Regions from separate parts of the Homo sapiens genome. Here region 2 is linked to region 1. The links come from fine-mapping of genetic effects on gene expression. Tissue or cell type: whole blood. Region 1 holds a variant in brackets; the other region holds the start of a gene. All regions are shown on one strand. Distances are between the middles of the regions.

Region 1 (8,100 bases):
GATGTCCGCCCCCCTCCTGATCCACTTCACTCCTCGGAGCCCTGGCAGCGAAGCGGAGGCGGAGACAGGTGGTGTCAGGGCGTCCTCTCGCCAGGCCGCAGGCCCCGCGGGGCAACAGGACACTGGCCCCTGGCAGGCGGGCGCGGGGCCCTCGGGCTCGATGGGGAGAGGCCGGGGCCGGCGGCGGCGGATGGACGCTGGCTCGGGAGACAGAGCCCGCCGCCCCCGGAAACTGGACCCGCTCCGCCTGGGCGCCGCGGGGAGCGTGTGGGACGCGGTGGACGGGGCCGCCGCCCTGGACGCCCACGCGCGCGGCCTCCCCACAGGACCCCCACTCGCCCAGGAGCCCGCACTCCCGGCGCTGCCCGCTCCCCGCGCCCTGCAGCCTGGGTCTCAGACGGAAGGCTCTGGGGCCAAGGGTGGCTGGAGCAGGGAGGCCTCGGGGGTCCCTGCCCCCGGAGGAGGCTGGCCCTGGGTCAGCAGGGAGGTCCCGGGCACCCGGAGCTTTGGCCCAGCCCCAGACTCCACGCGCCCCTGGCTAGAGAGTCCGCCTCAAGGTCGCCCACTCTCGTCCCAAGGGCCGGGTGCCACAGGGGCCTACGATGCCGGCGAGGCCGGGGCTGACAGCTCCCGAGATAACAGTCCTGCCGCTGACCTGGGGCCCACCCGGCCCCCGGAGCAAGCAAAGCCGGCTGCAGCCGGCCACAGCCGCGCGCCCTCCCGGAGCCGTGAGCCTCGCCCGCGCTCCGCCTCCCCGCCCGCAGCTCCCGGCCCGGGGTTCCCACCTGAAGCCCTGACTCTCCCCTCTCCTTCAGACTTTTTGCCCCTGGAGGTTACCCAGGATCCTTCCGTGGGCGAAAATCTCAGAGCGGCGCCAGCCCCAAGTTCAGCCTCAGCCCAAGTCTTAACTTCAGCTCCAGCCTCAGTCCTAGCCCCAGCCCTGGCTTCATCCCCCAGCTCAGCACCAACCTCAGCCACCACCTCAACCTCATCCCCCACCTCAGCCCCAGCCCCAGCTCCAACCTCAGCTCCAACTTCAACCCCAGCCCCAGCCCCAAGTCCAGCTGCAGCCGCAACTCCAGCCCCAGCCCCAGTCCCAGTCCCAACCCTCACACCCCCATCCCCAGCCCTAACCCCAGTCCCAACCCCAGCCCTAAGCCCAGCTCCAACTCCAGCCCTAACCCCAGCCGCATCCCCAGCCCTAACCCCAGTCCCAACCCCAGCCCTAAGCCCAGCTCCAACTCCAGCCCCAACCCCAGCCGCATCCCCTGCCCCAGCCCCCACCTCAGCCCCAACCCCAACCCCAGCCGCATCCCCTGCCCCAGCTGACGGGTCAAAGCCTCAGGAGAGTGTGGCTCTCCCCAGGCGCTACCAGGAGGGGCAGGTCTCAGCCAGCTGGGGAAACCTTATTGCCATGGTTCTTAGAAGCCACCCCTTCCCCAGGCAAGACAGGCCCCAAGGGAGTGTCCCGAGGGCGGTTCCCGGGAGCCCCGTGGGTCCCAGCACTTCCACACACTCTGAGGACAGACACGGCCCCTCTTCTTCAGTGGGGACAGTCATAGGGACAGGTACAGGGGGCCTGGTTGAGGCTGGAGGTCAGCCACAGCCAAGAAGCTCCGAGACCAACGGATCGCCCAGCCCAGACCCTCCCCCAGGCCTAAGAGGAGAGGGAACCAGGGAGAAAAGTCTAGACCCGCTGCCCCAAGCCGCGATGCCCAGGGGCCCCGCACAGCCCCCCGCGCAGAGGCCGCCTGGCCCCGCGGCCTCCTCCTCTGCGAGGCGCTCACAGCCGGTACCCCAGCTACGGAAACGCAGCAGGTGCGAAATCGCCCCGAGCTCGGAGCAGGAGGTCAGGCCGGCCGCCTCGGGGGACCCTCAAGGGGAGGCGCCGGGGGAGGGGGGCAGCCCTGCCGGCCGCAGCGGGGCGCTCACGGAAAAGCAGGAGGAGGCCCGGAAGCTCATGGTGTTTCTGCAGAGGCCCGGGGGTTGGGGGGTGGTGGAGGGGCCCCGGAAGCCCAGCTCCCGGGCCCTGGAGCCCGCCACGGCGGCAGCCCTGCGGCGGCGGCTGGACCTGGGCAGTTGCCTGGACGTGCTGGCCTTTGCCCAGCAGCACGGAGAGCCCGGCCTGGCGCAGGAGACCTACGCGCTGATGAGCGACAACCTGCTGCGAGTGCTGGGAGACCCGTGCCTCTACCGCCGGCTGAGCGCGGCCGACCGCGAGCGCATCCTCAGCCTGCGGACCGGCCGGGGCCGGGCGGTGCTGGGCGTCCTCGTACTGCCCAGCCTCTACCAGGGGGGCCGCTCAGGGCTCCCCAGGGGCCCTCGTGGCGAGGAGCCTCCTGCGGCGGCCCCTGTGTCCCTGCCTCTACCTGCGCACCTGCATGTGTTCAACCCCCGGGAGAACACCTGGCGGCCCCTGACCCAGGTGCCCGAGGAGGCCCCGCTTCGGGGCTGCGGTCTCTGCACCATGCACAACTACCTGTTTCTGGCGGGGGGCATCCGTGGCTCCGGTGCCAAGGCCGTCTGCTCCAACGAGGTCTTCTGCTACAACCCTCTGACCAACATCTGGAGCCAGGTTCGGCCCATGCAGCAGGCCCGAGCCCAGCTCAAGCTGGTGGCCCTGGACGGGCTGCTCTATGCCATCGGTGGCGAATGCCTGTACAGCATGGAGTGCTACGACCCGCGAACAGACGCCTGGACCCCACGCGCGCCACTCCCCGCAGGCACCTTCCCTGTGGCCCACGAGGCTGTGGCCTGCCGTGGGGACATCTACGTCACCGGGGGTCACCTCTTCTACCGCCTGCTCAGGTACAGCCCCGTGAAGGATGCTTGGGACGAGTGCCCATACAGTGCCAGCCACCGGCGTTCCAGCGACATCGTGGCACTGGGGGGCTTCCTGTACCGCTTCGACCTGCTGCGGGGCGTGGGCGCCGCCGTGATGCGCTACAACACAGTGACCGGCTCCTGGAGCAGGGCTGCCTCCCTGCCCCTGCCCGCCCCCGCCCCACTGCACTGCACCACCCTGGGCAACACCATTTACTGCCTCAACCCCCAGGTCACTGCCACCTTCACGGTCTCTGGGGGGACTGCCCAGTTCCAGGCCAAGGAGCTGCAGCCCTTCCCCTTGGGGAGCACCGGGGTCCTCAGTCCATTCATCCTGACTCTGCCCCCTGAGGACCGGCTGCAGACCTCACTCTGAGTGGCAGGCAGAGAACCAAAGCTGCTTCGCTGCTCTCCAGGGAGACCCTCCTGGGATGGGCCTGAGAGGCCGGGGCTCAGGGAAGGGGCTGGGATCGGAACTTCCTGCTCTTGTTTCTGGACAACTTTCCCCTTCTGCTTTAAAGGTTGTCGATTATTTTGAAGCCCAGACTCCCTCAGCCTCTTTCTGCCCCTCACTCCACACCCAGACTGTTTCCTGACTCAATTCCGTACCTACTTACAGACCCTCTCAGCTTGCTGACACCCCCCTGTCTGTGGGACTCCCTATTCCCTAGAGCCAGGGACTGATGCGTCTCCACAGACAAGGACTTGGCTCGCTGGAGCTCTGCTGAGCCGAGAGAGGAGGGGGTAGAAAACATTCACACTTCCTATGCTCTGTCAGCAGGACAGGGAGCAAAAACGTCCCCAGGCAACGCCCTCGCCTCTGGGACTTTCTGCCTGTCCTAAGGCCTCCCCAGGTACCAACCCCGTAGCTATCTGGGTCTGTTTGGCACTGTGGATTCTCAAGGGCCTAGAACCCTTGCCTCTGAAACTGGTCCGCTGGTGCAGCCCTGCTGTCTGCAGCTCCTGCCCATACCCCCAGCCCACACCAGGCCAGGCCCACTCCGGGCTCACCACCCTCTGCAGCCTTGTGGGGCTCTCCCAGCCCCTCCAGAAGCCCACCCCACTTCTCGCCAACCCCCGATCTCTAAATGAGGCCTGAGCGTCACCCTAGTTCTGCCCCTTTTTAGCTGTGTAGACTTGGACGAGACATTTGACTTCCCTTTCTCCTTGTCTATAAAATGTGGACAGTGGACGTCTGTCACCCAAGAGAGTTGTGGGAGACAAGATCACAGCTATGAGCACCTCGCACGGTGTCCAGGATGCACAGCACAATCCATGATGCGTTTTCTCCCCTTACGCACTTTGAAACCCATGCTAGAAAAGTGAATACATCTGACTGTGCTCCACTCCAACCTCCAGCCTGGATGTCCCTGTCTGGGCCCTTTTTCTGTTTTTTATTCTATGTTCAGCACCACTGGCACCAAATACATTTTAATTCACCGAAAGCACCTGCAGCTTGCACTTGTTGTGTTTTGTTCACAAGGTTTGATATGCAGCTGGGTGGATCATGGCACAGGAGAGAAGAGGTCCTCGGGCTGTGCTTAAAAATAAGTTTATTAAGAAACAAGTACAGTGCATACAGCTATTCATGTGGGTGCCAGCTCCATCCCCCAGTGACCTCTTCATACGGGCAGAGGGTGGCATGGCAGCTGTGGTGGGCCAGTGGGGCCTACAGCCTTTGCTTGGTCTCATGCAGCAGCTCTTGCCAGTTCTTCTCCATCTCCTCCTTGCAGTTGA[C/T]GAAGGCATCCTCCAGCCGACGCATGGACTCGGCCAGCGTAGGGTTGGTGCGCATCACCACCATGTCATAGGCCATCCAGGTCGCCTGCACTGCAACAAGCAGACAGGACTGGTCAGGCCACAGGGAGGGGCTGCAGCTCTGGGGTGCCCCAGAAGGGTCAGATGCCTCCAGCTGGGCTCAGCATCTGGAGGCCCAGATCCTGCTGAGGCACCCAATTACTCTAGGGAGAGACAGCTGGTAGGCTACTTGTTACAGGCTCATAAAAACTCCCTACAAACATCCATAGTGACGCTTCCTAGTCTCATGCAAGGCATAACTTCTGGATACACCAGACATGATGTAAAAAACTAGAGGCTGGTCTGATACGAAATGTGAGGAGAATTAGAGCAAACCGCAGCTCCTTACCTACAAGCAGTTCACAGCCAATGGCTGCAGGTGACCCCTAAGGAGTCATCCACCCAAGCTCACACACTCAGGTAGAGTTGATTGTTTCCAGTCCTGCAAGACCCAAACCTCATGTCACCTTATGTTCAGTGGCCTGGGATGCCTGCCCACCTCCACCTGGGCACCTCTATGCTTTCGTTGAGGCCCAGGCCTGGGGCTTCTCCTCTTGGGAAGGTGTCCTTGACCATCTACCAATGCACTGATGGGCTCTCTTGCTCTTTCCCTCTGACAGCAACTCGAAGGTAGCATTCCCTGGGCCTATAGGTGAACACATGCTTCTTGTGTGAACTCAAAGAAGTGTGTGCAGAAATCCCACCTCCAACTTTTTCTCTGCATAGTCCACCGGCTGGTGTGGTTCAGCCCTCTGCAACTATACAGAACAAAGGTCATCTCCCCTCTGCATGACAACCAACTGTACATAGCAAACACATCCCCTTAAAATTCCTCTTTGTGGAATCCTCACAAGCATCCCAGATCGTTCCGGTGCAGGGAGGCCGCAGACTACCTGGACAGCAGGTGCAGCAGGGACCTGGGGCCAGAGCAGAGTACGCCTCCCAGCTCCCCACCTGACGACTCTGTGACCTGGAACAAGTGTCTGCAATGTATCAATCTCGGCCGGGTGCGGTGGCTCACGCCTGTAATCCCAGCACTTTGGGAGGCCAAGGGGGGTAGATCACGAGATCAAGAGATTGAGACCATCCTGGCCAACATGGCCAGTGTTCCTGGCCCATCTCTACTAAAAATATAAAAATTAGCCGGGTGTGGTGGTGGGTGCCTGTAGTCCCAGCTACTAGAGAGGCTGAGGCAGGAGAATCGCTTGAACCCAGAAGGTGGAGGTTATATATACATAAATCTCAGTCTCCTCATCTTTGGAGACCCTACCAATCTCATGGCTTACTGTGAGAATTAAATGGGTGATATATGTAAACTGCCTGGCACACATGTTATGGACTGAATGTGTCCCTCCCACATTCACCTGTTGAAATCCTAACCCCCGACGTGATGGTATTAGGAGGTCGGGTCTTTTGGAGATGATTAGGTCCTAAGGGTAGACCCTCCTGAATGGGATTAGCACCCCTTAAAGAAGAGACACAAGAGCTCACTCTCACTCTATGCAAGGATATGTGAGGCTCTATGTGAGGATACAAGAAGGTGGCTGGCCGGGCAAGGTGGCTGGTACCTATAATCCCAGCACTTTGGGAGGCTGAGGTGGGTGGATCACTTGAGCTCAGAAGTTTGAGATCAGACTGGGCAACATGTTGAAACCCTGTCTTTACAGAAAATACAAAATTTAGCTGGGCATGGTGGTGTGCACCTGTAGTTGCAACTACTCAGGAGGCTGAGATGAAAAAAAGGATCCCTTGAGCCTGGGAGGTGGAGGTTGCAGTGAGCCAAGATTGCACTACTGCACTCCAGTTTGGGTGACAGAGTATGACCCTGTCTCAAAATAAATAAATAAATAAATAAAATCCCAAAGTGCTGGGATTACAGGCCACTGCGCCCAGCCATAACGTTTTTTTGAGTGCAAATTAAATCATTGTTTCTTGGCTACAATAATCCTCTAGAGAGGACCAGATTGTAACTTTTCCTCATATTTTTCGTTGGTGCCCTAATGGAATAGGTTCCTTTTTCTGTTCTAATGCACAAATTACTCTTATAATTGTCAAACTTATCTCCCCTCATTTTGCTTCCAAGGAAACTAAAATCATGGTATTCTGCAGATGACCAAAGATATGAATCTCCCTCATTTGGCATCGCACTGGGCCCGGATCTGTTACACTGCAAATGCCCTGCTGCTAAAACGATACAAACACCCTCCCTCTATGCCCAGGGACTATCACAGAAGAGAGAGTCTCGCTCCGTCACCCAGGCTGCAGTGCAATGGTATGATCTCGGCTCACTGCAAGTTCCGTCTCCTGGGTTCAAGTGATTCTCCTGCCTCAGCCTCCTGAGTAGCTGGGATTCCAGGCATCCACCAACACGCCCAGCTAATTTTTGTATTTTTATTAGAGATGGAGTTTCACCATATTGCCCAGGCTGGTCTCAAACTCCTGACCTTGTGATCCTCCTGCCTCGGCTTCCCAAAGTGCTGGGTTTACAGGTGTGAGCCACCGTGCCCAGCCTGTAGCAGATTTATATAAAAATGCAATATGCGGCTGGGTGCGGTGGCTCATTCCTGTAATCCCAGCACTTCGGGAGGCCAAGGCAGGCAGATTATGAGGTCAAGAGATTGAGACCATCCTGGCTAACACGGGGAAACTCCATCTCTACTAAAAATACAAAAAAAATTAGCCATGCATGGTGGCGGGCACCTGTAGTCCCAGCTACTCGGGAGGCTGAGGCAGGAGAATGGCGTGAACCCGGGAGGCAGAGCTTGCAGTGAGCCGAGATTGTGCCACTGCACTCCAGCCTGGGCAACAGAGCGCGACTCTGTCTCAAAAAAAAAAAAAAAGCAATACGCAGCGTAGGTCATTTGGCATGCCAGATGGGTTAGGATTAAATGTTAAAAAGGAATACGGAGAAAAGTAGAAGAAAATACAACTAAATATTTCACTGATCTCAGATTGAGGAAAGACTTTCTAGGTGTCAAAATAATGGCAATAAATCAGAAAGGAAAATATTGATAGATTTTTCACTACATAAAACTGTTTGCTGGCTGGGCGTGGTGGCTCACGCGTGTAATCCCAGCACTTCAGGAGGCCAAGGCAGGTGGATCACCTGAGGTTAGGAGTTTGAGACCAGCCTGGCCAAAATGGTGAAACTTCGTCTCTACTAAAAATACAAAAATTAGCTGGGCATGGTGGCAGGCGCCTGTAATCCCACCTACCCAGGAGGCTGAGGCAGGGGAATCACTTGAACCCGAGAGGCGGAGGTTGCAGTGAGCTGAGATCACATCATTGCATTCAAGCCTGGACGACAGAGCAAGACTCCGTCTCAAAAAAAAAAAAAAAAAAAGGCCAGGCGCGGTGGCTCACACCTGTAATCCCAGGACTTTGGGAGGCTGAGGCGGGCAGATCACAAGGTCAGGAGATCAAGACTATCCTGGCCAACATGGTGAAACCCTGTCTCTATTAAAAATACAAGGCCAGGCGCGG
Region 2 (8,100 bases), 77 kb after region 1:
ATTACAGGGATGCACCACTACACCTGGCTAATTTTGTATTTTTAGTAGAGATGGGGTTTCTCCATGTTGGTCAGGCTGGTCTCGAACTCCCGACCTCAGGTGATCCACCCGCCTCGGCTTCCTAAAGTGCTGGGATTACAGGCGTGAGCCACCGTGCCCAGCCAACAGATATTTTTAAGAGATCACTTTGTCTGCTGGGTGGAGAATCGTTAGTAGTGGGTCAAAAGGTGAAGGCAGGAGACAGAAGTGTGGGCACAGGTGAAATGCAGAGGCCTGGGAGGGTGGAGGGGCCCCAGAGGAGCCGTCTCAGGGCCTGCTGCTGTGCCTTCCTAGGAGCCAGCAGGGGCTCCAGGCCCCTTAGCCCCACCTGGAGTGTGCAACTCATCACCCAGCTTCAGACAGGTTTCTTATAAGAACCAAGGAGGTCCAGTGCCTGTGTCTCTAAGAATGCTTCTTCTGGGGGAATATCCCGTCTCTCTCAGGCACTTTGCATCTTCTGAGTCTTCTGGCCCTCACACCCTCCCACCCTCCCACCCCGTTCCTGGCACTCAAAGGCACGTGGCGCTGCTCCTGTGAACAGATGTGCCCATGTCCTTGAGGCTGACGTGTGCCTGTGTGCACTGACCCACGCAGATCACCAAGGCGCCAGGGCAGCTTCCAGAGCCACGACACCAGGGTTCAAATCCCAGCCCAACCTCTTTCTGGCTGGGTGATCTTGTACAAGTCCTGAACCTCTCTGCACCTCAGTTTCCTCATTCGTACCACAGGGGACCGGCACCAGCACACAGCATTACCCCAGGATTGGACGAATTGTCACATCTGCAAGTCTCCACTGGTGTTATTACGTTATCAGGCACAAACCCCCTCCAGACACCTGAGCCTCCCCCACAGGCTCCCAGTGAGGAGCCATCACATGCCCAGGCCAGCCGAGGGGCCCTCAGGCATGGGGATCTGGGCAATGGCAGCAAGCTGGGCGGGGGGTGCAGCCAGGATGACAGCAGATCTGCAGGGCGGGGTCCTCGCCCCGGGCCACCTGGCTGGGGCCGAAGGTCACAGCTGCGTCTAACTGGGCCTTGAGCAGCTGAAGCTGTTTCAGGGCTTGCAGCACCTCTGGGGTGGCCCCGGCCACACCCCCCAGCAGGTTGTAGTTCTCACCAGGGTCCTTGGACAGGTCATAGAGCAGCGGGGGCTCATGAGCAGTCAGAGAGCTGGAGGCGTGGCAGGCAGGGTCTGCAGTGGTATCACTGTGGGCAGAGCCTGGGGAGGGGGCCAATTCTGTGCACAGGGCAAGGGCGAGAGGAGGGGCCAGGGATCTAGGGCTCCGGGGAGGGGTCAGCAGGTCGGGGGGAGGGATCCACGGGGAGGGGTTACCCTGGGTGAAGAAGTGAGCCTTGTACTTTCCAGTCCGCACAGCAAAAACCCCACGGACCTCGTCTGGGTAGGACGGGTAGAAGAAGAGAGACTGCCGAGGGCTCTGGGGGCAGAGTCAGGGGTCACGGGGCGGGGCAGGCCCCAAGCACTGCACATACCTGGGGCTGCCAGCCCTGGTGGGAGGCCCTGGACGTGCACCGCTTCTTGCCCACCCAGGAACCTGAGAGGTGGCGCCACTTGGATGCCACTCAGTGCAGGAGGCACTGAGGCACAGACTCTCAGGCACTGCCCACACTCACCCCAGGGGAAGGCCAGGACAGGGGCCAAGGATCTGGGATCAGGGGTCACCGGCCCTACCTTGCCTGTGCCCAGCAGCAGGGGGCTGAGGTCAAAGCCATCCAAGGTGACATTGGGCAGTGGGGCCCCAGCCAGGGCTGCCAGGGTAGGCAGCAGGTCCAGGGAGCTGGCCAGCTCGTGGGTCACGCCTGGGGGCAGGAGGCTGGTCAGTCACTCAGTTCGCCATCAAGGTTGGGGTGGTGGGGCCAGGGTTCCAAGGAGAGGGCCTGCGGACTGACCGGGAGCGATATGACCTGGCCAGAAGGCCAAGGCAGGCTCTCGGACACCGCCCTCGTAGGTCGTTCCCTTTCCACACCGCAAGAGACCGGAGCAGCCGCCTCGGGACATACGCATGGTCTCAGGTCTGGGACACAGGAGGCGCTCATGAGCCATGGAGCCACAGCCTCTGAGCCACCGAGGGTGACCAGTGGCCCCACACCTCTAAGTCACAAAGCTTGCCCGGAGGTGCCCAGCATGAGCCCGGCACCTCCCAGGCCTACCAAGACCAGCTCTCTGTGCACTGTGTCTCCTGACTACACCTTGGGCCCCTGCAACGTGGCCAGCATCTCCTGGCACCCCCTCACCCACTATGTTCTTGGCAAGCAGCTGAACTGCAAGGCCTCCAGGGCCCTGGCCCGTGACAGGGCCGGAGCACCCAGCTGCCCTGCTGGCATACCCATTGTCTGCAGTGAAGATGACCAGCGTCTCTTCAAGCAGCCCCAGGTCCCCTATGGCTGTCATCAGGGTCCCCACAGCTGCATCCAGCTCCATCAGGGAGTCCCCAAATGGCCCGCGGCCTGAACGCTCTGCAAAGCTCTGCCCACTGAACTGAGGGTAGTGGGTGTGCTGGGGGCAAAGACTGGAGTTAGCACTGGGTAGGGGTCACGGGCAGCCAGGGGGTTGGGCCAAGATCACTTACGTGAGAGGCATAGTACAGGAAGAAGGGGCGATCCTGGCGCTGGGCGTCGGCCATGAGGTCATGGGCGAAAGCCATGTAGCGGGCCTCTAGTCCGGGCAGCCAGGGGGGCTGCGCCTCCACGGACAGGTTGGCCAACAGTGGGATGGGGACCAGGCCCTGGTCACAGCCACCGTCGCAAGGAGTGGCCGGCGGGAAGCAGGTCAGGTTCTGGCAGGGGCCCTGAGGCGGGCAGCTGCCGTGAGGGCTGGGCTGGCAGGTGGGGCTGCGGGAGCATCAAGGGCTGGGGGACTTTGGGAGGTGGGAGGGTGGCTGAGGGCCCGGGTGGTTCCTACCTGGTCGTGGGAGTACGGGATGCCTAGAAATCGATGGAAGCCCTGATGGGGGGGCAGGAAGGCCCCCTCAGGCCCCACCCCAAGGTGCCACTTGCCGGCCATTCCTGTGAGGTAGCCTCGGGCAGCCAGGACTTCGGCCACGGTCACCTCCTCCAGGGGCAGGCCCCCCCGGGAGCTGGGCACCAGGACGCCAGGGTACATGCCCATCCGAACCGGGAGCCGGCCGGTCAGGAGGGCGGCCCTGCGGGACAAGTCACAGAGTCCCTGAGACAGACAGAAATGTGGCCTTCCCTAGAGAGAGAGACAGACGTTTTTCCCGCCCCCCTGCAATCCATTGGGAGGAAAGGGATGGAGGGTCGGGGCGGGGAAGAGGCGCGGCCCCCTCTTTACCTAGAGGGTGTGCACAGAGACACAGGCACGTAGAAGTCTGTGAACCGCAGCCCTCCCGCCGCCAGCTGGTCCAGGTTGGGAGTGGTAGAGCTGGGGTGCCCATAGCAGCCCAGGTCCCCATAGCCGAGGTCGTCGGCAAAGATCAGCACGATGTTGGGCGGACGGGCAACGGCCAGGCCAGCAGCCAGGGCCAGGAGGAGGGACCGCGGTGCCCCCATGGACATGGGACCGAGGGGTCTGTCCCAAGAGAGGGAGGGCTACTTGGCTCCAGCAGGCTCTTTCCGATACCGCAGACCCAGGCGCCGCCCTTCCCTGAGACCCCGGACCCAAATACTCCCCGACCCTGACGGCCGCCTCCTGAAGCTCCAGAGGGCCGGGGCCCGACAGTACCGGGAGACCGCGGGCTGGGACGGAACTCCTCCAGGACCAGGGCACCTTCAGATTCTCGAGCGGAGATCTGATCCTCCTCGCCTAGCGGTCCGGGCTCAGGGTCGGGGGCGTAAGTCACTTGGCGCTGACCAGCGGAGTCGGGCCGGGGGGAAGGCGCTAGAGGGAGCCCAGGAGGAGCCGGTACCGGGCTGCGGGCGCTTCCGCCTCGGCCCCGCCCCGTGACCTGTGACCCTTGCGGGGCGGGGCCGGGGGCGGGGCCGGGGGCGGGGCCGGGGGCGGGCCGGGGCGAGGGGCGTTGCTGCGCGTGCTCGCTCCGAGGCCGCCGTGTGCGCCTGAGGCTGTTGGCTGCGGTCTTGAAACGGGCTCTGGGAGCTTCCTCTGCGCGGTCGGCCCTGGCTGAGGCGTCCCGGGCTGCGCGCGGGGCTCGGCGCTGCGCAGTGTCCGGTGTCCTCTCGGTCCGGAGCTTCTCCAGAGGAGGAGCGGCTCGTGCGCCCCCAGACCTCCGGTACTGGGAGACTCGGGCCCTCCTGTAAGAGACCTGAGCGCGGAGCGTTATGGGCACCCGGTGAATGAGCAAATGGCAGGGAAAACCGTGCAGCCCCATGGACTGCGGGCTCTTCCTTCACGACTAGCAAAAGCTTTGACACCCTTTCTCCTGCGTACGCGTGTCTGTGTGCGTGTAAGCTGTGGCTGGGTGCGGGGGGCTGTGTACGTGTCTGTGTGTGGTGTGTGTGGAGTGTTTGAGGCAGGTGTGTGGTGTTTCAGGTGTGTGTGCATGTGTGGTGTTTGAGGTGTGTGTGTGTGTTTTTGTAGTGTTTGAGGGATATGTGTGTGTGGTGTTTGAGGTGGGTGTGTGGTGTTTGAGGGGTGTGTGTGTGTGGTTGAGGGGTGTGTTTGGTGTTTGAGGGGTGTGTGTGGTTGAGGTGTATGGTGGTTGAGGTGTGTGTAGTGTTTGAGGCACGTATGTGTGTGGTGTTGGGTGTGTGTGGTGTTAGAGGTGTGGCGTATGTGTGTTTGCGGTGGTTGAGGTGTGTGTGTGTGTCTGGTGTTTAGGGTGTGTCTGTTGTGTGCGTGTGGTGGTGGAGGCGTGGTGTGGTGTGGAATGTGTGTCTGGGGTCCAGTCTGGCCTGTTGCAGGGTTACGCTGCTGGGGAAAAACTCATCTGAGGACAACGTGATTGGGTCCTCGCTCCCTCGTTGGGCAGCCTTGGACTTAACCTTTTTGATCTTGAAGGAAAACACAATATGTCACCTCCAAATATATTTCCTTGACACGGTTCAAGACAGTTACTCAGAAGGACTGGAAATAGAAGAATAGCTGAAAAGCTGTCTTTTGTGGGGGAGATTTGCATCTGTGGAGAGAATCTACACTGATGCGGCCAGGCCTCCTCTGAGGCCCTCCTTGCCTGATCTGGGAAGAGTAACAGTCTGACGCCTTTAAAGGCCTGAAGGGAACATTCACCATCTGTTCTCTCTCAGGGCTGCTACCTGTGAGGTTTCATCTGTAGAACAAGGCCACCTTTGCTAGCCAGGCCTCCTCTGCTCTCCCTCCTGTAACCGGTCTTGCCACTGGTCACCTGATTTTCCACCATAAACTGTGGCCATACTTTGAGCCCATGTTCTTTCTGTAACCTCAAGATGGTATATAAGCTTCCGAACCCCATTGGGAGGTTGGGGTCATCACTCTGGTTCTCCCTGTGTGCATGAATAAATCTGTATGCCTTTTTTCTTACTAACCTGGCTTTTGTCAGTTGATTTTCTGTGAACTCAGAATGCAGAAAAGTTTTTCTCTAGGCTCCTACAGTTTTGGTGCAGTCGGTAGGATAACTAAAGTCACTCTCCTGGGAGCCTCCGTCAGGGGAACCCAGGAGCCGACAAGCTGGCAGAAAGAAGGGTAAGAAGGTCTTAGCAGCCAGGCTCCCGGCCTCTCTGGAATCTTGTCAAGCCGACGGTAAAAATGTCTGTTTACCTTGTTTTCCTCTTCAAAGTTTTAATGAGAGAAATGTATTTATGTGATTAGTTTTGTATTCATATTGTTTGATTGCTTTTTTTCCCCAGAAATAGTCGTCTTTCATTCTTGTCTTTCTGTGTTTTTCTGTCATAAAGAGGGTAGAACACAGGCCTAAAACCCCTGTAAACCCCGTCTTGGGGCCGTCCTGCAGGCTAGTCAGTTTTGCAGCTCTGATCGGATGCGTCTAGTTAGACAGACTTTGCTGTGGGTCCCTGAACTGAAAACTGGATGAGATTCTCCTCTCTTTTGATGTCCTTGAAAGCTTGAGTTGTGAGCGAGTGGGAATGATGCAGGCCAGGCAGACCCCAGAGTGGAGCTTAGCCAGTGAGGGTTTTGGCTTTGCCCAGGAAAGAATTCAAAGACAAGCCAGAGGTAGAAGAAAACAGCTTTATTGAACAGGTGGCGTTAGAGCTCTGTGACTGCTCCTGCAGAGCAGGGCCACCCCGTAGGCTGAGAGTAGCAGCTCAGGGCAGTTTTGCAGTCACATTTATACGCACTTTTGATTGCATGTAGATTAAAGGATGGTTTATGCAGAAGTTTCTAGGGAAGGAGTAGTCATCATTGGGTCATTGCCATGGAAAGGGGTGGCAACTCCTGGGTGTTGCCATGGCAATGGTAAACTGACATGGCACAGTGGCGGGCATATCTGACTGAAAGCTGCTATTGCCCCAACCCTGTTTTAGCCAATCCTCAACTGGGTCAACTAAGTCCCACCTCCTACCTCAGGAGCACTCTCTTGGCCTCTGCCAATCCGAGGTAGTGACTCGCAGGTCACATTTTGTGGTCAGTCTGAAAATGGTTGGGAACCCAAGACATTTAATATTTTAAGCAGCACCGTTTTTGTTCTGAATGTGTCAAGCTTTTAGTTTGTCTTAAGAAGTCCCTGCCAGGCGAGCTGTCAGAGCCCCGGCACTGGGAGTGGTGGTCAACTTGCGGGTTGGTAAAAAGAGTTTACCGACAATAGGTTTGAAAAAGGAAAGTTTGGCCGGGCATAGTGGCTCATGCTTGTACTCTCAGCACTTTGGAAGTCCAAGGTGGGTGGATCACCTGAGGTCAGGAGTTTGAGACCAGCCTGGCCAACATGGAGAAACCCTGTCTCTACTGAAAGTATAAAACTTAGCCAGGTGTGGTGGTGCGTGGCTGTAATCCCAGCTACTTGGAAGGCTGAGGCAGGAGAATTGCTTGAACCTGGGAGGCGGAGGTTGCAGTGAGCTGAGACAGAGCAAGACTGTCTCAAAAAAAAAAAGAAAAAAGAAAGTTTGCCGGGCACGGTGGCTCACGCCTGTAATCCCAGCACTTTGGGATGCTGAGGCAGGTGGATCACCTGAGGGCAGGAGTTCAAGACCAGCCTGGCCAACATGATGAAACCCCATCTCTACTAAAAATACAAAAAATTAGCTGGGCATGGTGTCGGGAGCCTGTATTCCCAGCTACTTGGGAGGCTGAGGCAGGAGAATCGCTTGAACCTGGGAGATGGAGGTTGTGGTGAGCTGAGATCATACCATTGCACTCCAGCCTGGGCAACAAGAGTGAAACTCCATCTCAAAAAAAAAAAAAAGAAAAAAAAAGAAAAGAAAGAAAGTTTATTAGAATGCTGCAGAAGAGTGCAATGAGGTGCCTCAGCAAGAGGACTGAGTACGCCGGGTGGATTTCTCCTTAAGGGCATTTATAGGCCTTAAAGTGGAGGCTTAACAGTAATTTGGACCATATTAGCCACGTAAGTCATGATAAATGATTACATTTATAGTAATTTTGGTGCCTTAATGTCAGCGACGGTTGTACAGTGAGTTTCGTCATGGTATTCTGGAGACACATAGAAATTATAGTTACTTACACGTTTTTTGGGGGAAGAAATCTGGAACCAGATGCCTGCTTTAGATAATAGGGAGGTTTAGTTACTTTTGATTTTCCCCAGATAAGGAGTTTTGCCTCGGAGGGCCTGTTTGATGTTTGATGGTCGCCAGGTGGTTTTTGCTCTCCTCAGGCCCATCCATAAGGGGCTTTTGTCATCCCAATGTTTGTTGCCTGGTCAGTCCTCAGAAAGCCCAATCCCAACAGGCCTACCCTGTGTTACAGGTTAATGGGTCTGTGACTGGCAGCCCCTGACAGATTGTGTGTTACTGGAGGCACTGTATGTACAAACACGTTCCTTAACTGTCTCTGGGAACAAGAGTCTTTTGCTGTCTTTGCCTATTCCTGGGAGTGAATTTTGGGGGCATCATTGGAACCTCCTCTTCTATGCCCTCTCTAAACCTGGAAAATAATCTTTTGGGCTTTCCATGAAGGGGCTTCTTGGATTGAGTTGCTATTGGAATAAATACATCATTGGAAATTCTGATTGTCAATAGCCAA

What was found. PIP is the estimated chance that this variant, and not a neighbour inherited with it, causes the effect.
Region 2: it holds the start of ARSA, and the variant in region 1 is fine-mapped to the expression of ARSA in whole blood (TOPMed, PIP above 0.99).

What each region holds. Positions count from the first base shown.
Region 1 is chr22:50,546,753-50,554,852 of GRCh38, forward strand. KLHDC7B (kelch domain containing 7B) reads left to right here. Exons shown (of 1, transcript NM_138433.5): 1 at 1-4,271. The coding sequence ends at 3,199. It overlaps SYCE3 (synaptonemal complex central element protein 3), which reads right to left. Exons shown (of 3, transcript NM_001123225.3): 3 at 4,360-4,650. The coding sequence ends at 4,493. It overlaps KLHDC7B-DT (KLHDC7B divergent transcript), which reads right to left and starts at 2,195. Exons shown (of 4, transcript NR_199716.1): 1 at 2,144-2,195. RefSeq lists silencers at 1,673-2,102, 2,183-2,342. The variant C/T (reference allele first, on the strand shown) is at 4,561.
Region 2 is chr22:50,624,208-50,632,307 of GRCh38, forward strand. It overlaps ARSA (arylsulfatase A), which reads right to left and starts at 3,945. Exons shown (of 8, transcript NM_000487.6): 1 at 3,349-3,945; 2 at 2,959-3,199; 3 at 2,627-2,845; 4 at 2,384-2,553; 5 at 1,947-2,071; 6 at 1,729-1,856; 7 at 1,372-1,474; 8 at 1-1,257. The coding sequence starts at 3,572. The coding sequence ends at 938. It overlaps LOC124905149 (a long non-coding RNA gene), which reads left to right and starts at 7,287. Exons shown (of 2, transcript XR_007068161.1): 1 at 7,287-8,100. RefSeq lists an enhancer at 2,123-2,905 and a silencer at 3,840-4,029.